Regions from separate parts of the Homo sapiens genome. Here regions 2, 3 and 4 are each linked to region 1. The links come from fine-mapping of genetic effects on gene expression. A gene starts in region 1. Each other region holds a variant in brackets. All regions are shown on one strand. Distances are from middle to middle.

Region 1 (5,651 bases):
ATTAGAATAGATATATTGGAAAAAATTATAGAATAATCATTTGTTGGATAAAATGTTGGATTTCTTCATAAAGAAGTGTGAAAACAATAGAAAAAAACTAGAAGTAGTTAGGTTATTTTTGAGCTATTTTTTCATAGTAGAGAATACAGTATTTCTTTATATATTGAATATCCCATGCTGTGAAACATTTAAGAAAATATTCATGATACCCAACCTTAATAAATTCAGTAGAGTAATATCTGAACTTGATAAATAATTTGCATTCCTAGCCTCTACATTGCTTTCAGATATAAGTTTAAGAGTGCACTATGGGAATAGGGGTTCTTTAATAAAATAATAGAAGTAGAAATAGAGAGATGGTTCCAAATTTGAGAAAAGCCTGCATAAAACTTGGCCATGGGTTGAATGTTAGAGGTGCATGAGAAGGAAGGGTCCCATATGAGTTTCAAGTTCCTGGTTTGAACAACTGGTGACGGTGGCACCAATAACCAAGTTACACAAAACCGGAAGAGAAGCAGGGTGTGGAAGTATAGCATTTTCAGCTCTGGGAAAGTTTAGAATAAGGTGTCTCTGGGAGATGGGAGTGAATATTTCAGTAGGCTTAAATAATGAAGTTTGGTACTTATTTGGGTAATCAGGATTTGAGACACAGATTCAGAATTTTTAATATAAATGTGGATAATGAAGCTGTGGAAACAGTTTCTACAAAAGCAGAATAGATTACAAAAAGAAAATTATATGACCAATCTATGAGAATTCTCCATAGCCCATTTACCCACGTTTGATCCTACAAAATTAATGTCAAGGAAGATGTGGGTCAAAGAATGCTCTTCCTTTAAAAACAGCATTACCTGGAAAGGAAGAAAGTACTCCTTGAGAGTCTTGCATATTAAGGTAATTTCCAGATGTTTGATCTATGAAAAGATAAAGGGTATTGAAGTAGTCACTTATCATCTCTGGAAAACTTTACCCCAATCTGTAAAACACTCCCCACTAAAAATTTCTCCCATAACACTGACTGACTGACTGACATTAAATAATGTTAAAGATGTTCTTTAATTTAGAGAGTGGTGGGAGGTAGAAAATGAAAGAGGCATTGGTAGAAAAATACGTGTTTATTACACATAGATGAAAACAGAAACATCTGCAATGTCTGCTTAGACAGGCATAAGCTTTCCCTAACCCTTAGAACAGAAGGCTTTTGCTTTCAAAGAACATCTCCCTCTGAAGTGGCTTTAGGAAGTGCCACAGACATCAATGACTGGGAATCCACCAGAACTCTCATCCTCACCACGTGGTAGGTCCAAGTGGTCATGAGATTTGGCCAGCTCAGTTCCTGAGCCCTGTATTGGGCCTGAGGAGGGTTGCAAGTGGAGGATTTCCAGGCCTCACAGCATGACCCACAGCCTGGTAACAGGCAACCAGGTGATCTTACTCAAAGAAAATACAAGGAGGCAACTGGAGGAATGAGCCCATTAGAAATCTTCACTTTTCTATACGTTCAATGTGTTCTCTGAGTGTATCGCCATCATTGAAATATATTTTATTCTTTTGGGAGGGTAAAATTTTGGAGAAAAGTTATAAAAAGTATTTGATTATAAACCTTAAAGCTTCATGTGACTTTACAACTACATAAGTGCCTACAGACCCCTTGCACTCAGCAAAAATAAATCCACAGGTAAATATTTTGCCTTGCCAGGAACACTGGAAAACACAGCATGAAGCTTTTCAGATGGTTCTCAAGAGCTTCAGTAAAGGAGCTACCACATACTCAGAACAGGAAATGAGCTTTAATCAGAAGAGTGCCACTGAGGATTAAGGAAAAGAATCAAAGGAGAGTCAAGGGACATGCAATAGGGACCCTGCTACAGAAATATGGCCCTGAAGCCAGAAATAAGAAAGTTTTCTTCCAATTAACATGACTAGTAAAGAAATCAAATGTTAGGCACGAAGACAGGCCCTAGGTGAACTTGAGTGTAAGTCACTGACCCTTACCTGCTGAGAGTCCCAGCGTCCCTGCCAGGTAACTGTCTTCTTCACAAATGTATGTGATGCAAATTTGGCATGCCTGTGCCCCTTTCGGAATAACGGAGTCAATCAAAGCTCGGGTCTTATCCATAACTGTAGCATTTTCACGTTTTACTTTCTCCATCTCTTCCTTGTTCAGCACCCTTGTCTGTAATAATTCATCCAGTAAGCCATTTATTGTACCTTCACCCATGGAACGGATAAACAGCTTTCTCTTCTCCTTCAGGACCTTGTCTGTTTAGAGCACAAGGATTTCTCACATCATGAAAACAGCCTCATATTCCTCTCATGTAATCAACAGAAAGTGACCTCATTTAGATTTCATCAGTGAAATGTCCCCCTCCTCACAGTTGGGTAATCCCTCTTCTTACTGTATTGCTGTCCTACTTGTTTCCCTCAATAGTCTCCATACATGTGCATGGAGTGACCTGAAGACTGAGTTTACCATTTCCACATCAGTCCCTGGAAAGCAGAGATCATCCTCTTATGTCGCATGTTTATTTAACTCTGGTTAATAAAGTAATGAAGCAGAAATAGCCCATTTCATTTAGGAACCACTGCTGCTAGTACTCCTCCTGTGCCAATTCTGTACCCTCTGTCAGACTTTCAACATGTAAGTAAGAGTTTAATTAAGATTGCAAAATGACATCAGGCTTCCCCTAAAGCCTCAGTTCCTTTCTGGGCTTGCCTTTCCTTTCTAAAGTCTGCAAGAATCTTCTAGTTCCTTCTCTCCTCCCTCTCCCCCCTTTTCCTTGCTTCTACTCAAGTAAACTTCCACAGATGCTAATTATGGCTTCCAGAAGAGCCAGCCCCTTCCAAAACTCTTTCTTCCCAGGGACCTGTTCTTGGAACAGTAAAAGACTCACCGGCCATGGCTTTTCTCTCCTCCCTTCTTGTGTGACTGAAACTGAAAGTATGCTTCGCCTTCCTTTTTGGCAGGGCCTGTACATGTATTGGGAAATACTCACTGTGCATGCATATGCATGTCTTTATTTTTCTTCCCATTAAAGAATCAGAACTGTAGCCTGCATCAGGTAGTGTATCCATGGGAAATTTTCTTCACCAGCCCTTGGATAGATCAGGGTAGGAGGGGAATGGGGCTTGGAGAGTAAGACAGGATTGAAAAAGTATGTGTACAATTAAATTCACACAGTGAAGAGTTTCTCAATCATTAGAAAGCTTGACGGAGAAAAGTAACACAACCTTTGGAGTATGTGAACCACTGTTCCCCTGACCCCACCTCATAGCTCTTGGGAAAGTTGTGGGTAATGTATGTCCCTGTGAAACATTTTTGCTTTAAGAAATAGAAACATTTTTCACCAGAATTAAAGCTTTTCTTATTTAATGTCCTTCTTTTCACATTGCTTTTTTCTTTCTGTTTTTTTTTTTTTCTGATACAGGGTATCATTCTGTCGTGCAGGCCGGAATGCAGTTATTTGACCTTGGCTCACTGCAGCCTCCACTTCCCAGGCTCAGATGATTCTTCCAACTCAGCCTCCCGAGTAGCTGCAATTACTGGCACATGCCACCATGGCCAGCTAATATTTGTATCTCTTGTAAAGACAGGGTCTCCTTGTGTTTCCTAGGCTTGTCTTCAGCTCCCAGGCTCAAGCAATGTGCCCACCTTGGTCTCCCAAATTGCTAGGATTACAGGCATGAGCCACCCACCCATCCTGGAGGGTTTATTTTTGAGGGAAATTGCATTGTAGAGGCCCAGAGCATAGGCTCTGGAATGAGAATGTCGAACTTAGCATTTTAAACTTCCCTTCCTTGGCAAGATAATGAACTTCCCTATGCATTGGTTCCTCTGTATGTGAAATAATTTTATTAATAGTATGTACCTACACAGTTTTGAGCATTAAGTGAGAGAAAATGTGGAAAATGCATGGAACATAGCCTGGCAAATGGTAAGCAAATAATGAGTGATATTATTATAATTAATACAAATGTTTAAGGTTAGAAAAATAATCAAGGATGATTATTTGCAGATTATTTAGCTAAGTTTATCTTTTGTTAGAATCCTCAAGCAGTGCATCTAGTCATTCATTTAGCAAACATATACGGACGACATTGCTCTAGGTGCCAGAGGTTCAGTCAAAACATATCATGGTCCTTTCCCCTTTGGTCTCACATTCAAGAGGGAAAGACAAACATGAAGGCTGGTGATATGGTCTGTCTCTGTTTCCCTACTCAAATCTCACCTTGAATTGTAATAATCCTCATGTGTTATGGGAGGTATCTGGTGGGATGTAATTGAATCATGGGTGCTGTTTTTTTTCCATGCTGTTCTCTTGATAATGAATGTCTCATGAGATCCGATGGTTTTATAAAAGGGAATTCCTCTGCTCATACCCTCTTGCCTGCACCCATGTAAGACGTGTCCTTGCTCCTCTTTTGCCTTTTGCTATGATTCTGAGGCCTCCCCAGCCATGTGGAACTGTGAGTCTATTAAATATCTTTTTTGTTCTATATAATTACCCAGCCTTGAGTATGTCTTTATTAGCAGTGTGAGAAATGACTAATGCAGTAAATTTATACTGAGTAATGGAGTGCTGCTGTAAAGATCTCCAAAAATGTGGAAGCGATGTTGGAACTGGGTAAAATGCAGAGGTTGGAACAGTTCTTAGGGCTTAGAGAAAGATAGGAAAATAGAATCTGGAACTTTCTAGAGACTTGTTGAATGGCTTTGACTAAATGCTGCTCATCTCGAATGAAGATAGGAACTTGTTGGGAAGTGGAATAAAAGTGACTGTTGCTGCGTTTTAGTGAAGAGAGTGGTGGCATCTTGCCCCTGCCCTAGAGATCTGTGGAACTTTGAACTTGAGAGAGATGATTTAGGGCATCTGGCAGAAGAAATTTCTAAGCAGCAAAGCATTCCAGAAGTGATTTGGGTGCTGTTAAAAGCATTCATTTTTATGTATTTGCAAAGATATGGTTTGGAATTGGAACTTATGTTTAAAAGGGAAGCAGAGCATAAAAGTTTGAAACATTCGCAGCCAGATGATGTGCTGGGAAAGCAAAACCCACTTTCTAAGGAGAAATTCAAGCCAACTGTAGAAATTTGCAGAAGTAACGAGGAGCCAAATGTTAATCTCTAAGACATTAATCTCCAAGACAATGGGGAATATGTCTCCAGAGTATGTCAGAGACCTTCCAGGCAGCCCCTCCTATCACAGGACTGGAGACCTAAGAGGGAAAAAAATGTTTTCATGAGGTAAGCCGAGGGCCCTTCTGCTGTATGCAGCCTAAAGGCTTAGTGCCCTTCTTCCCGGGCCACTGAAGCCATGGCTAAAAGGGGCCAAGAAATAGCTTGGGCTGTGACTTCAAAGGGTGCAAGCCCCAAGCCTTGGCAGCTTCCATGTGGTGTGGAGCCTGTAGGGGCACAGAAGTCAAGAATTGAGGTTTGGGAACCTCTGTCTAGATTTCAGAGGATGTATGGAAATGCTTGTATGTCCAGGCAGAAGTTTGCTGCAGGGGTGGGACCCTCATGAAGAACTTCTACTAGGGCAATGCAGAAGGGAAATGTGGGGTGTGAGCTCCCACACAGAGTCCTCACTGGGGCACTGCCTAGTGGAGCCATGAGAAAAGGGCCACCATCCTCCAGATCCTAAAATGGTAGATCC
Region 2 (5,651 bases), 150 kb after region 1:
AGAGCTAATTCTTTTCAATGCCTTAAATTTTGTCTTAACCTTTTCTAGAACTGGAGATGCATATTGTTATAGAACAGATTCATTTTTTTATCTCATTCCCCAGCATACGTTAATAAATATTTATTAATATATTATTTTCATACATGTCTAAAACAATATTAATTGTAACGGAATGGAAATTAGCTCTGCATATAAATAAAATTTTCTAGTATAATCTGGATATCTGATCAATATTTTGTCTCTCTACTGATCTCTCTATCTGAAATATATTTTTAAGCTTTTAGCCATAAAATGTTCTATCTGGTTGCACAGGCTTACAAGTATGTTTTTTTTAAAATAACTTTGCCTTAGACACAGTTCTATCATTTCAACCATTTGCTGCACCCATATACATAAGAATATTTTTCTGTTCAGATTAAACTAATAAAACTAAAAAGTGATATAAATACCATATGGTACACTCAGTGACATGCATGGTATTTTTAAAGGAAGGGATATGACACTTTGGGGGATTCCTCTTATGACTTCTAAAGATTATTCTAATGGTGTAGATATAGAATCCTCTGGTCAATTGGATAAATGCCAAGCATTTAAACTCTGCTTGCTAATATTTACATAGCTACCTTTCAGCCAGCGGGCCACTTGCTTTCCTTTTATGTATTGAGAACTAGAGCTGCCCTGTGTTCCCCTGAAATTGCGGAATAAACTTATTAAAATGAATGATAATGCATTCGCTGGTAAATTTCACAAAGTGTGAAGGACACAAATATATGAACAAAATAAAATTATGTATTATTGAGAAATGGTTTATATACTTCCAGAGATATATTGCTCCTGTACTTATGTAGAAGTAGAAATAAAGATTAGCTCTTTAACATATTAATTGATGTTTCCAGTTTGGGACCGTGAAACATCCCAGAAACAGCTGATTGCTTTTTTAAAAAAGTCCTCTGTCTTTGTTCAGCTAGTCCTACAATAGTAACTTACTCATAGTACACATTTATCATATGCTAGCAGTCTGTCCAGAATAACTTCGTTTGAAGAAAAGATAGGTCAAGTGCACATTCCAGGGAATATTTGCAAAATAATATGTATTTTCTTGCAAAATTTTAAACAATTAGCTCTTAAGGTCACTTTCATATCACCCAGCTCTGCTAGTTTTGTTCCCCTTCTAACATATTTTAAAAGTATGCTTGTTTTAAAAGTCAAATAAATAAGATCTATGATAAAAATACAAGATAATAGTTGTGACAAACTATTCTGAAGAAGTAAGTTTCTACTCTAGGTGCGGGCAAGATCCTTCTAATCAAAGAGGAGTTCTGTGTTTATCTCTTTTGAATAATTGTGCTTTAGTTTCTTCATTTATCTATCTATTATTACTGATTGCCTGGAAGTGTACAGAAAGTCATGTCAAGGACTAAAGCAAACTCCTCTCAAAATATTCTTCTTGAATAAACTAGATTTTAATATTAGTTAATATTTATGTGTACGATGTGTTAAGCATTTTAGTATGAGCTTGTTTCATGGCCAAAATAATACTGTGAGAGTATGAGATATCATGTCTTCATTGTAGAAATGGAAAAATTAATCTGTGAGCAAGGTTGTGCAGGTTTATTAAAGTTGAATAACCACCAATTGCTAGAGTGAGAATTAGAAATCAGGATTGTCGGCCGGGCGCGGTGGCTCACGCCTGTAATCCCAGCACTTTGGGAGGCCGAGGCGGGCGGATCACGAGGTCAGGAGATCGAGACCATCCCGGCTAAAACGGTGAAACCCCGTCTCTACTAAAAATACAAAAAATGAGCCGGGCGTAGTGGCGGGCGCCTGTAGTCCCAGCTACTCCGGAGGCTGAAGCAGGAGAATGGCGTGAACCCGGGAGGCGGAGCTTGCAGTGAGCCGAGATCCCGCCACTGCACTCCAGCCTGGGCGACAGAGCGAGACTCCGTCTCAAAAAAAAAAAAAAAAAAAAAAAAAAGAAATCAGGATTGTCTGAGTCCAGAGTCTATGATCTAAACCACTCATAAAGACTGCTTTTTTACACTTATATTTCCTTTCAATGGGTTATTAAAGTGAAAGCTAAGGTCTCACTAAACTATTGCTTAACAGATATTCTATTAAGATAATTCATAGCCTTTTACAAAGACAAGACTAAAATACGATTAGCAGAAAGTCTTCTGAACAACTTGGCCTTGAGCCAACCCAAGTTTCAGAGACAATGTGAATGATTCAGCCGGTGCCTTATAACTGAGATCCAGAAATAGCTCTGAATCCTACAAAGAACTAAAGAAGTATATTCTCTAGCAGACAATGAGCAATAATGAGCTTCTGATGAGCCATATATAAATTTTTAAAATATTACAATATTTTTAGCCTATTTTAAGATATAAACATGTTTCCAAAAATACAGATTGTGCTTCTGTTTATTGATTTATTATCATTTGGTGGTCTATTCAAAGATATTCACAGAGTCAATAAATTCTGATTATTTTTTCAAGTTAAAAAGCAAAGGGATTTTTTAGCAAAAACACAGCCTCCCAGAGTACAGGGAAATGATATTAAGATTACCTAATAGGGTTATTGAGGAAGTATGTGTTACAGAAACATGTACTTCTGCAATTCTTGAGC[A/G]AGAGCTACTGAAGCCAACCAACAAGAAACTCTTGTCAGGAACCTGGCATTATGTGAACTTATCCAGTATGCTTCTTGGAGATCACTTGACTCTAAATATAAGTGACAAACATCACCTTGTGTTTTCTGAGCAGGACGGAAAGGTGCAAGCTAAAATGTGTTGTTATGATGCTAGTTGGCTTTGAAATTACTTTTCAAACAAAGATCGCTTTTGATGAGACCTAATCTGATATTCATGCACAGAAAGTGAAGATATAGCAAGTATACTTAAAGAAAACCATGACTTAGAAAGCAGAACAGTTATATTTATGTTTGTAGAGACTAGGAGAGATAATTATCTTAGAAGTGATTTAAATGCACAGAAAGTAAGTGCCCAATTTCCAAAGAAGAATTAGAGATCTCTAAAGCCTTTATTAGAAAATCCTTGTGTTCTTTTTATGAAATGTCAGTGAAATGAGAGATTGTCATGACGTTAAACCAGAATAAGAATTTAAGGAATGGAGAAAAGCAATGATGAAAAAAAGTATGTATCAACGTTTGATCTGAAATTTTCCTCTTCTTTGGAAAATGTCAAATTTTATGTGCATATTACTTGAGCTGAAATGTAAAATCTTAAGGTTTATGCTGAAGCTTCCTATGACTCTAATGAAAATTTAGAATGTGAATAAGAACTTTTTAGAAATACTTTCTATTGTTATAGCTTCAATAAATTCTAAAAATTGTTTTTACATAACATCCATGGCAAGAAAAAATGTCTATACTAATCATAACATTCTTCTTCCATACTTCAGTATGAGAATACAACCATATTATTTTCTAATATTAAGGTCTATTTATTGATCCTCAGCAGCATTATTACAGTTTTCTAATCTTTATTAAAATCACCCTGTGCACAAAAACTGTTCTGACATTTAACTAATTTCCAAACATCTTAAACCATTCAAATATAGTGTCCATTGAGTATAATTTGACTTTTACAAAACTCAGTTGAAAATTCCTTGTTTGCCTATTTGTTTTACTTGTTTACATTTGTTTTTCTATCATATGCTATATTTTCTCTATTGTGTAAACCAGGGAACAGAGTTTGCAGACTTTGGTTACCACACGCATACCTAGGATCCAACACAATAGCATTTCTGAATTTATACCAGAATCAATACACTAAAAAGTATCTAGTGCACAGTAGGCACTCAATAAATGCTTGTGAAAATGGAAAAATATTTACATATAAATTTAGCAGTTAAGGTAGAAACTTATTAATTAGTGAAGTTCTCAATTCTTCAGATAATTTTGGAAGGGTATTGTCAAGTGATTTATCCTGATTTTATTCTCCTTGCAATCATTTCTCCCTATTCTCCAGTTCTAGGATTCACATAATTTCTCTCTGACACAAATCTGTCCTTTTAGCTCATCACATATTTTTCAAATAAGTTGTAAATCATTTTACTTATTTTATTGTCTGTCAATTTATTTCTCTAGTAGTCTCAATTTTTTTACTTGGCCTCACTGTGCACATACATAACAGCACATTCTCAACCCCTATCCCTGCTTAAAAAAACTGGTTACAGTGTGATTTGGATTTGAAGCAGTGGATAATATACATGCAACCGAAACATTTTTCCTTTTCCTTCTAGCTACAGTAAAGTCAAGGTCTATACACCAAAGATAGAAAAAATGAGAAAAATAAATGGAAAGAATGAAGCAAAAAGAGAGCCATGAAAGATACAAAGAGATGTATTTAGAAAGTAGAAGGATCAAGACACTGTGTGCCTCAGAAAAAAAGAAGGTAAGCAGCAGTCGACTATATTTTTTAATTGAGATTTTCTTATCTAATTGGAATTATCCATGTAAGGAAACGAATCAGGAACTTGGTTGCCAGATGCAGAGAAGTAGATAAGATTTTCCTCTAGCTATATGCTTGTGCTTTTGGCCTGATTAGCAGCGGATTGAATGATGGCCCTCCTCAAAAGGTATGTTCATATTCTAATCCCTGAAAAATGTAAATGTGACCTTGTTTAGAAAAAATCTTCTTTGCAGATATAATTAAGCTAAAGATTTTGAGATGGAATAATTCAGAGGAGGAGAAGATATGAAGCAGAAGAGAAGAATCCCATGTGAAGAAGGGTACAATGATTGAAGTTACACAGGCGCAAGTTGAAAAGGCTGAAGCCATCAGAATGTGGAAGAGGTAAGGAAGGATTCTACCCTACAGCCTTCAAAGGGAGCATGACTTTGCTGACACCTTGATTTTGGACTTCTGGCCTTGAGAACTGTAATATAATAAATTTCTGTTGTTTTAAGCTATCAAGTTTATTGCTATTTGTTAAGAGAGCAGTAGGAAACTAACAGTATGTATATTCCTTCTTTAGTGACAGTTACGAAGTAAAAAAAAAACAAGAGAATATGGAAACTGCTATATACTAATGATTTTTTTCTGCCCATATCCATCTGAAGCAGTTCCTATTTTTGAAGGTTCCTTTCCCTAACACACACACACACACACACACACACTACCACCACCACCACCACACCAGAATTAAATAAAATACCACACAATGAAAGAGACTAGAGGTTGAGAGGGCTTCTATAATTTAAAATGTGGACATTGCAGCATCATCTTTGAACCCACTTGATATATACCAATTCAAAATGGAAAATTGTTGAAAACCTATTGTGCTACGTTAAATGTAAAAGACCATTTATGAATGATGCATGGGTTCTCCATACAGTAAAGCAAGTCACTTCATATATTTCTGCTTGGAAAGGAAACAGAACACCATTAATGCTACAAAAAATGAGATGGTGATAAATAATGCTTGAGATACTCTTTGGTCCATCAGCTGCTTTCAAGAAAGTAGAAATGATTGCAAAGTTTAGTATGAGCTTGACAAAATATATATACAGATTACATTTTCTTAAGTTAATAAACTTGGAGTTCTTATTTTTCTTCTAATTCTATGTGCAGGTTCATCCAGAATCAGCTTGGCTATAGCTGGAAGCAATTAAGAATATGCACAAGGGCCAGG
Region 3 (5,651 bases), 490 kb after region 1:
CTTAATTCCATAAGTGTCCTTAAGACTTGGGAGAACCTTCATATATTTTTCCCTCACCCTAGAGTTTTGAGACCAATTCTGGTGCTTATTCTCTTTCTCTGGACAATGAACATATCTGTGATACCATTTGCTGTCCTCATCTGCTAGATACCCCATACAGACAGTCCCTATATCCAGAAAATAGACCAAAAACTCCCATATATTAATATAATCTATATAATTGTATATAATATAAAATAGACTAAACCTCCATAAGTTATTAATATAATATATAATTATATATAAATATTAATATAATATATAATTATACATATAATCATTAATATAATTTATAGGAGTTTTTGGTCTATTTTCTGGAAATAGGGACTGTCTATATGGGGCAATCTAGCAGGAAAAAATGTAAATCAGGAAAAAATTGAATAAATGTCTTGAAAATGTACTTCAAAAGAGAATATTCAAATGAAGCATGTGAAGATATGTTCAATATTTAGTTATCAGAAAAATGCAAGTTAAAATCACAATGAGACACCATTACATATTTAGTGCCATTTCTTTAAAAAATGAAAAAGTTATTACATATGTAAAGCATCTAGCCTTTTTTTTGTTGTTGTTGCTGTTAAACATTAGCCCTTTTTTTTTTTTTACTTTTATCTTGAGCTTCAGGGCACATGTGCAGATTTGTTATATGGGTAAATTGCATGTTGTGGGGATGTGGTGTACAGATTATTTTGTAACCCCGGCAATAAACATAGTACCCAACAGGTAGTAATAAGCATATTACCCAATAGGTATTAATAAGCATATTACCCAATAGGTAGTTTTTGGATCCTCACCTTCCTCCCAATTTCCCCCTCTTGTGGGCCCTGGTGTCTATATTCTCTTCTTTTTGTCCACATGTACTAGATAATTAGCTTCCACTTATAAGTGAGAACATGCAGTATTTGGTTTTCTGTTCCTGTGTTAGTTCACTTAGGATAATGGCCTCCAATTCTCTCCATGTTGCTGCAAAGGATGTGATCTCATTATTTTTTATGGCTGTGTAGTATTCAATGGTGCATATGTTTCTTTATGCAGTCTAGCACTGATGGGCAGTTAGGTAGATTCCATGTCTTCACTATTGTGAACAGTGCTGCAATGAACATATGTGTGCAAGTGTCTTTATGGTAGAATGACTTATATTCCACTGGATATATATCCAGTAATGAGATTGCTACATTGAATGGTAATTGTATCTTAAGTTCTTTCAGAAATCTCCAAACTGCTTTCCACAATGGCTGAACTAATTTATATTCCCACCAGTAGTGTTATGTTTTCTTTTCTCTGCAGCCTCACCAGCATCTGTTATTTTTTTACTTTTTAATAATAGCCATTCCGACTGCTGTGAGATGGTATCTCATGGATTTTATTTGCATTTATTTCTCTAATGATTAGTGATGTTGACCTTTTTTTCCTATGATTGTTAGCCACCTAAATGTCTTTTTTTGAACAGTGTCTGTTCATGTCCTTTACCCACTTTGTAAGGGGATTGGTTGTTTTTTGCTTATAAATTTGTTTAAGTTGCTTAAAGGTGCTGAACATTAGACCTCTGTAGGATACATAGTTTGTAAGTATTTTCTCCCATTACGTAGGTTGTCTGTTTACTTGGTCGATATTTTGCTGAACAGAAGCTCTTTAGTTTAATTAGGACCCATTTGTCAATTTTTCGTTGTAATTGCTTTTGACATCTTCATCATAAAATCTTTGACCAGTCATATGTCCAAAATGGTATTTCCTAGGTTATCTTCAGGGTTTTTATAGTTTTAGATTTTACATTTCAGTCTTTAATCCACCTTGTGTTGATTTTTGTATACTGTGTAAGGAAGGGGCCAAGTTTCAATCTTCTGCAAATGACTAGCCAGTTATCCCAGCACTATTTATTGAACAGGGAGTTCTTTCCCCATTGCTTGTTTTTGTAAACTTTGTCGAAGATCAGATGGTTGAAGGTATGTGGCATTATTTCTGGGCTCTCTATTCTGCTCCACTGGTCTATGTGTCTGTTTCTGTACTAGTACCATACTGTTTTGGTTACTGTAGTCTTGTAGTGTAGTCTGAAGCCAGGTGATGCCTATAGCTTTGTTCTTTTTGCTTAGGATTGCATTGGTTATTTGAGCTTTTATCTTATTTTTGTTTCATATAAACTTTAGAATAGTTTTTTTTCAAATTATAAAGAGAATGTCATTGTAGTTTGATAGGAATAGCATTGACTCTGTAAACTGCTTTGGGCAGTATGGCCATTTTAATGATATTGAATCTTCCTCTCCACGAGCATGGAATGTTTTTCCATTTGTTTGCATCATCTCTGGTTTCTCTGAACAGTGTTGTTTTTAATTCTTATTGTAGAAATCTTTCACTTCCTTGATTATCTGTATTTCTAGGTATTTTATTATTTTTGTGGCAATTATGAATGGGATCACATTCCTGATTTGGCTCTCAGCTTGGATGTTGTTGGTGTATAGGAATGCTATGGATTTTTGTTCATTGATTTTGTATCCTGTAACTTTGCTGAAGTTGTTTATCAGATCAAGGAACTTTTGAGCAGAGAATATGGTGTTTTCTACATATAGAATCATACGGTCTACAAACATAGATAGTTTGACTTTCTGTCTTCCTATTTGACTGCCTTTTATTTCTTTCTCTTGCCTGATCACTCTAGCTAGGACTTCCAGTACTATGTTGATCAAGAATGATGAGAGAGGGCATTCCTGTATTATTCCAGTTTTCAAGGTTAATGCTTTTGCTCATTCAGTATGATGTTGGCTGTGGGTTCCTCATAGATGGCTCTTACTATTTTAAAGTGTGTTCCTTCAATGCCTAGTGCGTTGAGGGTTTTTAATATGAAGACGTGTTTAACTTTATCAAAAGATTTTTCTGCATCCATTGAAATAATCATGTGGTTTTGTTTTTAGTTCCCCTTATGTGATGAATCACATTTATTGGTTTTAATATGTTGAAGCAACCTAGCCTCCCTGAGATAAAGCCTACTTGATCATGATGAATTAGCTTTTTGATGTGCTGCTGAATTCAATTTGCTAGTATTTTGTTGAGGATTTTTGCATCTGTGTTCATCATGGACATTGGCAAATA[T/G]CCGTATGATCTTTGACAAAGCTGGCAAAACAAGCAATGAGGAAAGGACTCCCTATTCAATAAATGGTACTGGGATAACTGGCAAGCCATATGCAGAAGATTGAAACTGGAACCCTTCCTTATACCACATATTCAAGATGGATTAAAGACTTAAATGTAAAACCTAAAACTATAAAAACTCTGGAAGATAACCAAGGCCTCTCTTTTATAGGTGAAAATACAAGTTAGTATTACCACTCTTGAACTTTTGCACAATATGAATTATGTACAAATATATGCATAAACCATAACCCTGTAATTTTTATTTCTTTATCTATTCAAGTATCTACCCATCCAAGCACATGTATAAAAATGATAAGGTCTGTATTATCCATAATACCTTAAATTTCCATCATGAGAATAATGGATAAATAACTGTTGCGCAGTCATGAAATGAAATGCTACAGACTAATGATCTTCAAAGTGTGGTCCCTGGGCCAGCAGCATCAGTACTACCTGAGAACCTGTTAGAATTGCAAATTGATGGGCCCACTCCAGATCTACTGGTTTGGAGATTCTGGTTTGGAGAGTCTGGAGGGGGGTCCTCTAGATTTCTCTGTTTAGCAAAACTTCCAGATAATTCTGATGCATAATTAGGTGGACACGCACTGCTTTCTATGCAAAAAAATGAATATATATAAAAAAATCTGCTCTCCGCCATACCATGAATAAATTTGTGGTTAGATTCTAAGAGGAAGTATAAGAGAGATTCTGGCGTAATTTTCTATTTGGATGCTAGTTACAAGTTTACTCTGACCAAAATTCATAAATATATTCACATATAATTTGCCCATTTTGTATTTGTATCGTACTGAAATAATGTAAAAACATAGTGTACTCCAATCAAACTCAGCTGCTTTGATATTGCATGCTCAATAATGGGTGTTTATTTTCTCTCTTAAATTGGGTATTATACTCTGCAGGCAGGATAAAATGTATTTGTTTCAAGAAAAAAGACTATTTACTTTAAGAAAATGTATCCAGTCAACCTATTATATTTTGAGTGCATGTTTGTGTATATGCTATGCTTTAATGAAAACTTTACTGAAAAATTAAGTAAATATTTTTCCTTGGCAATCATCCATGTCAATATTGTTCATCAGATGGTACTGATGTTTTTATTTGTTGATTACTGCCATGTGGTAGGCATTTCACATACCACTTTACTAAATCCTGCTACCAAATAAATGGTATTCCTATTTTGGAGACAAAAAGTGCTGAGGCCTGGGGAAACTGTATAATGTCCTCAGAATAGTAAGTGGAAAAATTCAAGATTGGAAACTCAAGTCTGTCTAACTCCAAGTTCATGATCTTTCTACAGTATCATGTGGCCATATAACAGACGCAGAGACTGGTATTTTCCCAGTAGGTGCACAAAATAATTACTAAATCTATCCAGGATAAGATGGTAGAAGAGGCAAATGAGGTTGATGCTGCTGGGAATATCATACATTCTCCAGAAACTAGCCCATATTTATAGATTATCATGTTTAGAAGGCATCTTCAATATCATGAATTAAAATATATTCCCTTTGAAATCAATTCCATAGACTAGGAACTCAGTTTTTCACAAACTATCTCTTTTCATTACAATTTTCTTTATTAGATAATATTTTCTTGTATTGAGGCCAAACACTGTACAAATACATCACAAATTAGTACATATACAAAAGGAAGCTTGTGCAGAACATAAATTTGTACAAATATTATAAAAATACAGTGTGCTTTATACCAATGGTCCCAATTCTGCCTATTTTAGACATATAGGGAAACATAGTTCCATAAAACAGAATATCAAATATTTAAAGTAAACCACTATTTTGTTCTTTGAGTCTACTTTCTCCTTGTTTCTTCCAACTGTTTTTAATATTACCTGATTTCTGAGTCACTTCATCATCCTGATCTTTCCCCTCTGACTGGTTCAATTTGTTCATGTGTCCTTTCAAGAATGGTTTTACTTAGGTGTTTTCTAAAAAGGAAAGTAGAACAGGAACACTTCATTTATCTTGTTCCAAACCTCAAGTTCCTATCATTACACCGCAGAGTTCCAAGAACTAGAAGCAAAGGAATTACCCTTTTTTGTTTAAAATGTTCTTGGGTTTGGATCAGGTCCTTGTGAGAGCTTAGGCTGAGGCAATATTTTCACAATTTTTATTATAAAGTATAAAAATTTATCATCCTTAGTTGCCCAAAGCAGCTGTTATCATAATCAAAGGAATAACCCAAGATAATTTATCTTAGAGTCCTATAAACAGAATGTCTGGCAACTAATGTGCATATACTTTGAAACTGTGTGAACTAGACACATGGTTTTTCCCTGTTTAAGCCTTAACTTCTTTACTAATGGAAATGGGTTGTATGAATTAAGTGAAATAAAATCAGGAAAGTAATAGAATTCAATACATATTAGATCCATTTCCCCTTTCCATAGCTCCCTAAAAGACACAAAAATGCAGGGCTAGTTTATTCAAATGGCACACCTCAACATC
Region 4 (5,651 bases), 110 kb after region 1:
TTACAAATATTTCCACAAGGTAACAACAACAAGAATATATTTGGAGTTACTTTATGAGTTGTGTGATGAAGAGCGATCCATGTGCACTTCTCCAGAAAATGTTATTTTTGAATAAAGGAAATAATAAATCCTAAATAAAGAAAATAATAAATGCTTTATCCTTTTTTTAAAAAAAAGTCGAAGATTGTAAATAACAAATTAAATCAAGTAGGAAAAATAAAGGCTCAAATTTCTTTGTCCATATAAAAAGAGTAACATGATGGGCTTAGATTATTATAAAAGACACATGCAAAGGTTGTAGCATCACGGGTGAAGGAATAGGGCTCTAGAATCATAGTTCTGTAATTCAGAAGGCAAAACTATTATTTTATATTTGATACTATGTCATGTTTCCTAGAAAATATTATTTTATTTGATCTTCAAAATTTACTCAAGGCAGAACAGCTGCAAAGTGATACAGTAGCAACTGAACCCACATTTGTGCTGAAGATTCTTCTATACCTTCCTACAGATGCCCTTTTCTGATAACAGACCAGCCAGTAGGTAACACTGAGGATGCTTTACCTCAGTTAACATTGACTGGTCCATTTCCCATAGCAGTCATGGACAGAGACTACATTTGCTAAGGCACATTGGGGCTAAATATTAAATATGTCTACATGTCTAGACAAAATAATTAAATAAATAATATATTAAATAAGAATAAGGTTTTGCTTGAGCATTTTAGAAATTCTGTCTGCTCTGCCCAGGCCTTGAACACCACTTGAAATACTCTACTCTCTACTATACTATCTCCTTTTAAAAATTATATTACCTTAAATAAGATGATTTGGGGAATTGGTCTTTTATATATAGTGCTATGTATATATATATTTCAATTTTTTACCCATTTAATACATATGATACTTGTATGATGTGGATAATATTATTAATCTCATTTTACAGATAAGAAAAATGAAGCACAGAGCTTGAACACCTTCCCAATGTCACAAAGCAAGGAAGTGGCAGAGCCAGAATTCAAATCCAGGTGGCCCAGCTGCAGAATCTGGTTCTTCATCATTATTCCAGACCGTCTCTCAGAACCTGGTTGTAGAAAAGATGACAGGTGTCCGGCAAATTAAACTCTTACTAGAGCTTGATACAGTCTATTGATCGTTAGCGTTAGCTTAGTGTTATTATCTTATACAGCCCTGAAAACAGGTTCTGTGCCACATGTTTCCTTTTGTATTTTTTATACTGCACCCTCACAAGTGAGCTAGATAGCAAAGGCAAGTAATAGCTTCTTCACCTCATGAATAATGAGCCTGCATACTTGCCAAGAGATGAGATGAATCAGAATGAGAGTCCAGTTTTTCTCATCCCTAGGCCAGCTCTCTCTAGTATCACAAGCCATCTTTCTTGTGAGCATTGCGCCAAGTCTTCTGAGAAGACAAGAAAGGTAATATTGACGGGAGAGGGAGGTCTGCTTTCAAAACGCTAAGTGTAGACTGAAGGACAAAAGCATAAACACAGGGGAAAATATATGACAACAAAAGAGAAGTCGAAAATCCTCTAAAGGGCAAGACAAGCTAAGAGTGCTATAAATGGACTTTAGAAAAACATGGATTTAAAAGTGCTCAGGGATTTAAAGAATGACAGGGTTTTGAACACACAAATGAAGAACAAAGGGGACTATATTTAAGGAGAGCCTACTGTGTGCCAGGCATTGTGGTGAGTGCTTTATGTACAATGGGCATTGTTCACTCAGCACCACAGTGAAGAAGATGTTAGTGCTATATTCCCATTTTACAGATGGCAAACTGGCCTCACCCACATTAAAACTCCTGCATGAGGTCACATTGTTAATCTCCAGTGGATATCAAACTTAAGTTCACTCTTCCAATTGCAAAACCCAAGCTATTTCATGTGCAAATACAAGAGACGGAAAGACATTTCATGCCTATAGAATGGCATAAAAATTGAAAGCACAGAAATCGGAATGCAAACCATAAAAACAAAATTATCTAGATAAATTGGTTTCTTTACAAGGCACTTATCACTAACTGATACTTTCTTTCATTTATTTATTTGTTATCTATCTAGTTCTACAAAATGGGCTTCTAGAAATAACAACTTGTCCATCTTCTTTGCTTCAATACCCACATCACCTAAAACAATGGTCACATCACATTAAACAAATGTCATCAGTATATATTGTAAAATATAAATGATTTAGAGTGAAAGGAAGAATATATATCAAATACAGCAAATGTATAAATGAAAATTAATTTAGAAAAATATTTGATAATATAGGACAATCAGTTTAAAATGTGAAATTAAATGGAGATAAATGTCAAAGAATATGAATTACTGAGTTAATCATAACACATTTCTTCATTTATTTTCATCCATTAAATACTTATTTATTGAGTATCTAATAAATATCAGGTAACTGAATTAGAATATAAGGATTTATTAGTAAAACAAAAATACAGTATTAACCTTGTCCATAAGGACTTTTGCTGACTAATAGAGAATGTGGCCATGTGAGTTAGTAATTAAACCACAATTGAAGTTACAAAATTAAAGTCTGCATGGCTGGGAGGTAATGCATGTAATCCATTGCTCCTCTACTAGATGAACAGGTCTGGCAATAGCTTATTTCAGAGAACAAAAGCCTCAGGTTATTTCATTCTTTCATAAGTTTAATGTGGACCAGAACAATTTTAGATTGTATACATCTTAATTCACTCAAAAATATTTATTTTGACACTACTAATTACATATTATACTCAGTGAGAATAGTA[T/C]AAGTCAATAAGAACATAGAGTCTTGACTTCATAAAGCTTACATTCCAGTAGAGAAGAGGGACTTAATAAGTCCACAGACCAATAAATAAAATACTTGCAAGTCATAATGCATACCATGAAGAACACATATGTGGACAGGTGGGTTAATTTACTACTGCTTTTATAACACATTATCACAAATGTAGTGACTTGACACAACACAAATTTATTAGCTTATAGTTTTGGAAGTCAGAGTCTGAAATGGGTTTCACTGGGCTCATATGAAGGTGTTGGCAGGGCTGTGTTACTTCTGGAGGCTCTAGGGGACAATTCTTTCTCTTACATTTCCTGGTTTTTAGAGGCTACCCAAATTTTTTAGCTCATGGCTCTGTGTCATCCTGATCTATGCTTCTGTTTTCACATCTTCTTCTTTACTCTTTTGCTGCCATCCTTCCCTTATAAAGACTGTTGGGATTAAATTCAGTGCATCTGGATGATGCAGGGTATTCTCTCTATCTCAAGAGATTTCATCATATCTGCAGTTTCTTTTGCCATGTAAGGTAATGTATTCACAGGTGCAGGTAATTAGGACATGGACAGGTCTGAGAGTCCATTATTCTGCCTACCATGGAGGTAATGTTGAGAAACAAGGCACTTGGGGCAGCAGAATTTCCATAAGAAAGTTCTCACTGAGTTGGTGATGCTATGTATTCTATAAAACAATTAAAGGGAAAACACCATTTCACTAATTCTGGGACTACCTAAATCATATCTAGAACATTTTCTTTTATTTTTGGATGTCAATTTTAAATAATTTTTGGCAAACTACAGAATATACAATTTTCAAATCTGAAAAATGAAGACATAAGGAAATTGCAATATGTGATAGAATAAGGTGACTTTGAGCCCATTTTAGAGTGGATTATAAGTTTAAAAGTATGTAATTATGTTATGATTATTGTCATCATTATTTTCAGCATGGAAGAAAAGAACTGCCTACATAAATTCAAATATAGTAAGTAATAGTGTTGGAATCTTAAATACGATGCGAAAATACAATTGCAAATTCATAATACCTCCAGTTTTAACAAAATATATATTTCCTATCTTTGTGAAAAAGGCCTAGAGTTATAACAGTCTAGTAGCAATAATCACCTCTAGTTTCCAATATAATTTCTAAAAACTATTTACCACTAAAGAAGGTAAGGGCTTCTTGGAGAAGTAGCTGATCCAAGGCAGGGGTCAGAAAATTTATGACATAAAGGTAGAATGTTTTCTTGAACCAGAAAGCAAGGAAGCTCTCATGGGTCATGCTATAGAGGCAAAAGAGCCAAAGTGAAGGACTTCCACTGAGCAAGATGGGGAAATTTTAACTTCAGAAAGAATGTCTTTAAATGATTATTAAAACACATAGGGTATATTAAAAGCAGTGAGTATGAACTAAGTTTCTTAGAGAGTATGAGAAACAAAACAAAACTCTTGAGAACCAGTAAAAGTTGCCAGGGCACCAATTAATTGATAATTAAAGTGAAATAATTAAGTCTTTATCTCGATCTTTTCATGTGAATTATATTTCTGAATTTGATAATTAAAGTGAAATGATTAAGTCTTTATCTTGATCTTCTCATGTGAATTGTGTTTCAGGCTAACAAAATTAGGAGCTAGTACATAAGGGAAAAATTCTTGTATTAAGAAGTCTAGTTAATTAATAAATGGATAAAAAATTAGAAAAAAACTATAATCTCACAGGTTGTAATGACAGATATGATCATGACAATGGCAATCAGTGAGTGGTAAAATCATTAGTAAAGGTTGACCAGGACCTTTATAAAGAAAGGATCAAGCTGAACCCACAGATTATTTCTTGTATCATTAAAGCTGAGACATTTCAGGTGTTATGTACCTTCTAGTATTCTACAGTATGAAGTAATCAGCATCACCTAAGAAGTAGTCTTGCAAAATAAAATTAGCCTGAATCTAATCACAATTTTAGAAGTAACTTTCAGGCCAGGCGCGGTGGCTCACACCTGTAATCCCAACACTCTGGGAGGCCAAGTCAGGTGGATCACCTGAAGCCAGGAATTCGAGACCAGCATGTCTCGATACAGTAAGCCAAGATAAATATATTACAAAGACAGAAAAGTATTTTTTAATAAATTTGGTATTGTCTAAGTGTATGTTTATAAAGTTTGTAGTAGTTTACGGTAATGTCCTAGGACTTCACATTCACTCATTACTCATTCTCTCACTGACTCACACAGAGCAACTTCCCGTCCTGAAAAGTTCATTTATCGTAAGTACCCTGTAAAGATGTACCATTTTTTATCTTTTATACCATGTTTTACTGTACGTTTTATATGTTTAGATACACAAACACTTACCATTGTGTTATAGTTAACTGCAGCATTCAATACAGTAACATGCTATACAGGTTTATGGCCTAGGAGCAATAGGCGATACTGTACAATGTAGGTGTGTAGTAGGCTATGCACTCCATAATACTTGCACAATAATGAAATTGCCTAATGACACATTTCTCAAACATATCCCTGTCATTAAGTGATGCATGGCTTTGTAAAGGAACGATTGAATAAATAAATAAATGACAGAAAAGTTCAATGCCCCTTTTAGAAAAACACAAATAGTATATGTAATTAGTCCTTTCTCAGCACACTTCTCCTTTGTGTTCTCTTTCCTCAAAATTCACAATCTAAATATGAGGAAGCATCAGACAAACTTTGATGAGAGACATTCTACAAAAATCCTCTTCTAAAATGTCAAGGTCATAAAAATCAAGGAGATACAGAAAAACTGTCACAGACCAAAGACTGAGATATGACAACAAGGGGCAGTGTGGCATCCTGGATTGGGAGTGGACACTGATA

Direction of the effects. Alleles are on the strand shown, and positions count from the first base shown. SD is a standard deviation of normalised expression in the study named. Not every link is listed here.
In carriers of allele T in region 3, the expression in pancreas of the gene that starts at base 2,932 in region 1 tends to be lower than with G alone (small effect, 0.38 SD a copy in GTEx).

The links. PIP is the estimated chance that this variant, and not a neighbour inherited with it, causes the effect.
Region 2: its variant is the best candidate, but not a certain one, in a credible set for the expression of CASP1 in whole blood (TOPMed, PIP 0.89).
Region 3: its variant is the best candidate, but not a certain one, in a credible set for the expression of CASP1 in pancreas (GTEx, PIP 0.55).
Region 4: its variant is the best candidate, but not a certain one, in a credible set for the expression of CASP1 in whole blood (TOPMed, PIP 0.82).

Annotation. Positions count from the first base shown.
Region 1 is chr11:105,032,213-105,037,863 of GRCh38, forward strand. CASP1 (caspase 1) reads right to left here and starts at 2,932. Exons shown (of 9, transcript NM_001257118.3): 1 at 2,895-2,932; 2 at 1,996-2,262; 3 at 852-914. The coding sequence starts at 2,901. It overlaps LOC124902742 (a long non-coding RNA gene), which reads left to right. Exons shown (of 3, transcript XR_007062869.1): 3 at 3,429-3,469. RefSeq lists an enhancer at 3,011-3,060.
Region 2 is chr11:105,179,111-105,184,761 of GRCh38, forward strand. The region is part of intron 4 of LOC105369468 (a long non-coding RNA gene); the gene reads right to left. It overlaps LOC105369469 (a long non-coding RNA gene), which reads left to right. Exons shown (of 5, transcript XR_007062872.1): 3 at 4,260-4,411; 4 at 4,663-4,813; 5 at 5,591-5,651. Among named protein-coding and RNA genes, the nearest start is that of CARD18, 42 kb to the left of the region's middle. The variant A/G (reference allele first, on the strand shown) is at 2,626.
Region 3 is chr11:105,526,567-105,532,217 of GRCh38, forward strand. It overlaps a transcript of LOC105369468 not described here. Among named protein-coding and RNA genes, the nearest start is that of GRIA4, 81 kb to the right of the region's middle. The variant T/G (reference allele first, on the strand shown) is at 3,124.
Region 4 is chr11:105,147,115-105,152,765 of GRCh38, forward strand. No RefSeq gene overlaps it. Among named protein-coding and RNA genes, the nearest start is that of CARD18, 10 kb to the left of the region's middle. The variant T/C (reference allele first, on the strand shown) is at 2,787.